2 linked regions of the Homo sapiens genome follow. The protein of the gene in region 1 interacts with the protein of each later gene in a biochemical or structural test. Each region holds a gene or a part of one and is shown on either strand. Other genes may lie near its edges. The genes, in order: RASSF5 and MRAS.

The links.
Region 2: the proteins of RASSF5 (region 1) and MRAS form a complex in vitro, tested with the Homo sapiens proteins (one study listed by BioGRID).

The regions. Positions count from the first base shown.
Region 1 is NC_000001.11:206,583,912-206,587,729, forward strand, and holds part of RASSF5 (ras association domain-containing protein 5), read left to right. Parts: intron 1-475; coding exon 476-773; intron 774-1,268; coding exon 1,269-1,384; intron 1,385-2,914; coding exon 2,915-3,067; 3' UTR 3,068-3,818. UniProt on the Homo sapiens protein: Potential tumor suppressor. Seems to be involved in lymphocyte adhesion by linking RAP1A activation upon T-cell receptor or chemokine stimulation to integrin activation.
Region 2 is NC_000003.12:138,403,096-138,406,141, reverse strand, and holds the end of MRAS (ras-related protein M-Ras isoform 1 precursor), read right to left. Parts: 3' UTR 609-3,046; downstream 1-608. UniProt on the Homo sapiens protein: Signal transducer in the Ras-MAPK signaling pathway that regulates cell proliferation and survival. Core component of the SHOC2-MRAS-PP1c (SMP) holophosphatase complex that regulates the MAPK pathway activation.

The sequences.
Region 1 (3,818 bases):
AAAATCCAGTCACAAATGCACCTAGGTTTAAGTCTTAAAGGCTGTTTCTTAGTAAAGAGATACAGGAGGAAATCTAGTGGGCTGGTTCTCCAAGGCCCTCATTATAGAGCCTTCCTGCTTCCTGCCTGGTTCAGAGGTACAAACTAGAGTGGCTACCCCACACCCTGCCTCTTACAATGGGCACTCACCAAAGGCAACTGGTTACAGGAGGTTTAGGGAGCTGGCCTGAGCCTCCTGGGAGGGAAATCCACTGCAGCCCCACAGGTCCTCTTTGGTAGCTGGATCCTGAGGGTCTTCTCCCAGCCCACTATGGGGAAAGGGATCTCTGCTCCTTCCTCCAGCTCTCCCACGTCAGCAGAGGCAGGAAAGAACTCAAGGAGACAGGTGGGTGCTGCTGGGGCAATGGCCCCGAGTGGCAGATATGATCATGCAAGGCGGACGGCCCTGACCCCCTGTGACATGCCCCCGCTGGCAGAGTGAAGACGGCACCTACACGGGTTTCATCAAAGTGCATCTGAAACTCCGGCGGCCTGTGACGGTGCCTGCTGGGATCCGGCCCCAGTCCATCTATGATGCCATCAAGGAGGTGAACCTGGCGGCTACCACGGACAAGCGGACATCCTTCTACCTGCCCCTAGATGCCATCAAGCAGCTGCACATCAGCAGCACCACCACCGTCAGTGAGGTCATCCAGGGGCTGCTCAAGAAGTTCATGGTTGTGGACAATCCCCAGAAGTTTGCACTTTTTAAGCGGATACACAAGGACGGACAAGGTAGGAGAAAGAGTGAACCCAACCAGACCGTTCCCTTCCTACCTGTGTCCAAGCCCACCCACTAAAACTCCTGCCGGCCTTGGGTGGGAGCTGTGGGCTTCTCCTGAGCACCAGGGGTCCAGCTGCCCATGTGGTGTTCAGATCTGTGGAATCCGGGCAGGGAGGCAAGAGCAGAGTCCCTGACTCTGCATGTGACTTCAGGAAAACCACACCCTAGGCTCCCATTTCCTGATCTGTGCAATGGGAGGAATCTGCCCCACCATTCCTAATCTTTCAGGAGATGATGTGAATGGAATCATGCTTTAAACTCTGAGCAGACACCCAAGATAAAAGGTTATTGCCCTGTTCATTACTGTCATGTTCATTTCATTAAAAGGCCCGTGTCTACTTCCAGTTGTACGTACCCCACCTCTGCATTTCCAATCCTTTCCCGCAAGCCTGGGCCCCGCCCTTCTTTTCTGGGAAGAGCTCCCAGCACCCTCTCTTGGTTTGCAGTGCTCTTCCAGAAACTCTCCATTGCTGACCGCCCCCTCTACCTGCGCCTGCTTGCTGGGCCTGACACGGAGGTCCTCAGCTTTGTGCTAAAGGAGAATGAAACTGGAGAGGTAGAGGTAGGTCTGGACCCATTGTGCAAACCCAGGCCTTAGGGCACCCTGGGTGGGTGCAGGTGGGTGTTGTCCTAACTACCTCACATAGGTGGGAGCCACGCAGCACGGGCAGGAAGGTGACTGTTGAGAGAGTGAGCAGGGGTGGGTGATGGGCCTGGGGGTCAGTGTTTCAGCCAGGACTCTGAACACCCTGGGGTAGCACATTAGGGCCTGTGTGTGGCAAGGCCTGTGGAAAGAAAGGATTTCATGTGCTTTATTTCTGAAAACTCAGGGAGGAGGGGGACCAAGAAACTCCCTGTGCTCAGGCACAGGCTGTTTTTGCTTCAAAATGGCCCGAGGGCTACCAAGCTCCATCTCTGGGCTCCACTGGGTATAGACGTTTTTGAGCCATTTGTCCTCCCTTTTCTTGACCTCCATCCCCCAAGGGGAGCTAACCAGTGTGTAGTCTTGTGGCATAAACTGGAGTAAAACCAGGCCGGTGCCACCCATGGCCTGAGAATGACCAACAGGGGAAGGTCTCAGTGTTTGTCACACTGTGTTCAGTGGAGGCCTAGAGTTTTAAGGAGTTTTGGGAGTCACTGCGGAGATTTAGGGATCAAGGCAGCTGGGACTCTGTCCCTTCTCCCCATTTCAGCAAGGGCCGCTCTGCTCCCATCTGCTTTCTTTATTGGCATCTGTGCAGAATATGTTTGGAAAAAGTACTCCATGGACAGTAGCTGAATGCTGCTGGCCCTGTGGAAAGCTCAGGCACTTTGAAGTGTGGAGACCTGGGCTCTAGTTCCAGTTCTGCTGCAATGAGCTCTGTGATTGTGATTACGCCACCTTCCCTGTGTGGACTTGAGGTTTCTCACTTATCCATAGCGAGGACCAAACCAGATAAACCTTAGTACTCTATTGTGCTCAAAGAGCTTAGGAGTCTCAATTGTTGGCCGCACAGGGCTTGTGCTCTTGGGTCAGCCTGATGGAAGTCCAAATTGCCTTCTGCCATCAGAGGCCAAGTCCTTTAGGGGTAGGCCTGGGCCAGTCAGGCTCTCATTATCTGCTCTGCCAGTCATGGGAGGTAGATACCCCAATTTCCCAGCAGATAACAGGCTGAGAAGGGTGGAAAGCTGTGCTCGAGGTCACACTGCTGGGAGAGGTGGAGTCAGGCCCAACCCCGGTCTCCTGAGTCCACGTTCCACTCCTCCACCTGCTTTCTGAGGGTCTGCATGTTGGGAGGCTGGGTGGTTCCAGCATCACTGTCAAGATCTCGGCTGCTACACAGAAACTTAAGATTATTGAGTTTCAAAATAAAAACATGGTTCATAGACTGGCAACTCTTGGTCATGAGATGCCAGCATTTGGAATTTTGTTGCTGCTATGACAGGCATGCAAAGCCCAGGCTTCGCTGATTCAGTCTGTTCAGTAGCAAACTGTGTGTGAATCACGGATGTGAACTGGGAAGGGGAAGGCAGCAGGGTCTCTCAGGTCGTGTCAACTTCTAACCTGTCTCCTATTCTGTTTCTTCCCACAAATCTCCCTCTCGCCTCACAGTGGGATGCCTTCTCCATCCCTGAACTTCAGAACTTCCTAACAATCCTGGAAAAAGAGGAGCAGGACAAAATCCAACAAGTGCAAAAGAAGTATGACAAGTTTAGGCAGAAACTGGAGGAGGCCTTAAGAGAATCCCAGGGCAAACCTGGGTAACCGGTCCTGCTTCCTCTCCTCCTGGTGCATTCAGATTTATTTGTATTATTAATTATTATTTTGCAACAGACACTTTTTCTCAGGACATCTCTGGCAGGTGCATTTGTGCCTGCCCAGCAGTTCCAGCTGTGGCAAAAGTCTCTTCCATGGACAAGTGTTTGCACGAGGGTTCAGCTGTGCCCGCCCCCAGGCTGTGCCCCACCACAGATTCTGCCAAGGATCAGAACTCATGTGAAACAAACAGCTGACGTCCTCTCTCGATCTGCAAGCCTTTCACCAACCAAATAGTTGCCTCTCTCGTCACCAAACTGGAACCTCACACCAGCCGGCAAAGGAAGGAAGAAAGGTTTTAGAGCTGTGTGTTCTTTCTCTGGCATTGATTCCTCTTTGAGTTCTCTTACTTGCCACGTACAGGACCATTATTTATGAGTGAAAAGTTGTAGCACATTCCTTTTGCAGGTCTGAGCTAAGCCCCTGAAAGCAGGGTAATGCTCATAAAAGGACTGTTCCCGCGGCCCCAAGGTGCCTGTTGTTCACACTTAAGGGAAGTTTATAAAGCTACTGGCCCCAGATGCTCAGGGTAAGGAGCACCAAAGCTGAGGCTGGCTCAGAGATCTCCAGAGAAGCTGCAGCCTGCCCTGGCCCTGGCTCTGGCCCTGGCCCACATTGCACATGGAAACCCAAAGGCATATATCTGCGTATGTGTGGTACTTAGTCACATCTTTGTCAACAAACTGTTCGTTTTTAAGTT
Region 2 (3,046 bases), on another chromosome or scaffold:
CCCAAAGAGCTACCAAGAGAGGGTTTTGGCTTGTACTCCCTGGAAAACGGAGCCTGAGAGATTCAGCTTGGTCAAGTACCCGCCCTATTTAATCAACAAAAATGAAATCACATTGTGCCAAAGACTGTAACCCTAAGGATGGGGGAAGAGGGCAGTTTCTATGAAAAGGAATGTCAGGCAGATAATCCAATAGGTGTCCTGGACAAAGAGCACTGTTTCTGGGCTCCTCACCACACTCCTACATTAGCTTTAGTCCTCCAGCTACTTTGAAGTGCACATTAGTGTCCCATTCACAGGCAAGGCAGCTCAAGACTAAGGCAGGTCATTTGCCCAAAGGCATACAAAGGTCGGTAGTAGGGCTAAAATCCAGATCTGCCCAGTATCAAGAGGTAGTGCCTCTAAATGCTGTGCTAGCCTGCCTTCATCCTCCAGCTCCATGCAGGAAGGAGACACCCCACGGCCACCAGTGGGCTCCTCCTTACTTCAGATCTGGTTAGCACCAAGGTCATGCTCTGTAAGACGTGGATGTTCTGGGCAAAACACCAACAACTCACAATGTTCTCAGCAAAACTTCAGGAATACTGGAGTAAAAGGAACTAAGACAGATACGTGTTTCTCTTCTTTATTAATCAGTCGAGAGATACAAAGACTTAATAAAAAGTTACACAGAAGGTTCAAACATCACTGAGATCTTCAGGCATCACTCGTTTCACGACAATGGCCACCTGTTAAGACTATGAAACAGAAGCTGGGCGCTCACAGGCGCACAATAATTCAAGTATCTTTCATTCCAAGTAAACCCGACATGGAATTTCAAACACAATGGGCTGCCAATGGAGGGAACCTGTCTGTGGCTCCAGATTTGCTGTAACATGTCTGAGGGGCCTTTGGGTTAAAGTTGCCACGTTAGTGGGTCATGTCTCCTGGAAAAGTGAGACAGGCCCCACGAGGCCAGCCAGGCATTTTCCACAGCAAGTGCCATGAGAAGGAGGTGGGCAAAGTCCTAAGAGAAACCATCCAGGTGTCCCGAGTGGCAAAGTGCACAGGTAGTAAGTGGCCATTGTCCCCAGCCGTGGGAGTGGAGAGGATGGCTAGGATTATCTCTGGAAAAAAAAGAGCAGCCCTCTAAGGAGGGTGTCAAACAGTGGAAGAAATCTGAGAGCACACAATGGCAAAGGCATGGGGTGAGGGCATTTCAGGAAGGCTGTGCTCCAGGGGATGTGAGGGTAGCACTATTCTCCGGAAGACCAACGGGAACATGAGGATGTCAAACAGCCAGAAGTCCCAGTTGGCTCCTCGGTCATGGTGTGGCGTGGCCAACCAGGTTTCCCAGTCTGACCCTGCTAGATGATAATGGAGGAGAAGATGGAGGGATGTCACGGGGCACACTCTACACTCTACTCTGGCCTATCTGGAAGCTACCTCAGTCATGAGGGCCCACTTCTACAAATGGGGCATTATTTACCCATTTCATTTATGGGGAAATGAGTTCATGGGAGATGAAAGCTTACCAGAGGCTCAACAGCAGAGGATACAGAAGACCAACCCTTAACTAGTCTCTCTCAGGCACCATGGAGTTCAACGTGGGCCAAGTGCAGGATGGATGAACAGATGCACTGTCCCTTCTGTCCCAACTGTGTGGTTGAAATCCCTATGTCTTCTCACCTTTATGGCCGAGGTCTCTGTTCTACATCAGCTGATCTGCTTCCAGTGAGACTATCAAACTCAGTGCTGTCGAGGAGTTGCAGCTCCACGGTGGGCATGGGGTATGCTCGTAGTGGTTGGTGCCCAGCAGGAGTTTTCTGGCTGTGGACACTGCCCTGTGTGCAGGGCTTCTTCTCCTACTCCGCCATGCTCTTGATTCTGAGCATCTCCATCCTTACTCCTTCCTACCTGCCTTTCCTCCGCCTCACCTCCAGTTTGCAGCTGCCATCAAACTGCACACAACAAACTGCTGCAGATACCACTTAGGGAAGCATAAGGATTGGGAAGAGCTTTGTCCTTTTAGTGTTTAAAATACCTCTTAACACTATAGGGTCTAAGGAAACTTTGAAGTGCCTCACCTGGAATGTTCTCTCTTATCCTTCCTTTTAGGAACAGAAAAAGGGGCAATTTAGACAAATAAGAAGTTTGATTTCCAACAAGCAAAAGTCTCAACTGTCTCCTTTTGTAGCAGAATCATTCTCCAGCTGGGCCCCTCAGTGCTGGTGATCTTGCCGAGGTAGGAACACAGCACATTTTCAGAACCCGGGTGTCTTGGCATCCAGTTGGGTGCTCACTTTCCTTGGGTTTCTTTCTCCAGAGTGGCCAGGCCACCTGCTGAGGATATTCTAGTTTGCATAGTGACCTGATTTGTAACATCTAGAAAATAAGGTCACCAGCTGTGCTGCCTTTTATTCTGACCTTTTCTTTGGTGCAGCGTTGTTCCTGTTGTCTCTCCACTCCCACCCCAGCTGGAAAAACTCCAGTCTTTGGCTCACACCAGCAGCACCTGAGGTGGGGGGGCGGGGGTGAGCATCATCAGGGAGCTGGGGAGACTGCCCCCTTGCAGAAGGTATATGAGAGCCACACATCAGCCCAGCCTTCCTTACTTCTCAGATCATTTTATAGTCAAGATTCAACAGGTCAATAAAAATTGCCAAAAAGGCAACCTAGTACTACTTTTACAAATACTGGAAGGGGTCTGCTCATTGACTAGGCTTATAGAGGTGGTAGTCAGTTGACTCCAAGGGAAGATGGCTTCAGGTCTTGGTGCTGTTTTAGTGATAACAGTATTGAATCATTTTTGGTTAAGATCCAGCATGAACTGGAGTTTTCTGGATGGTGTCCACATTAGGTTACTTTGACGTGTCAGTGTATTCGTATCAGAGAGGCACCAAGCAGCACAGCTGATGTGAAAACGCAGCAAGAGACAGATCTGAGAAACCCAGAGCCTCCTCAGACCCCTGGGGAGGGCAGAGAACTTAACCCATACTGTCTGAAAAACAAATGAACATGTTTGCAAAGCCAATCAGCTTACTTTAGTTTATACATTTCCAGGATAATG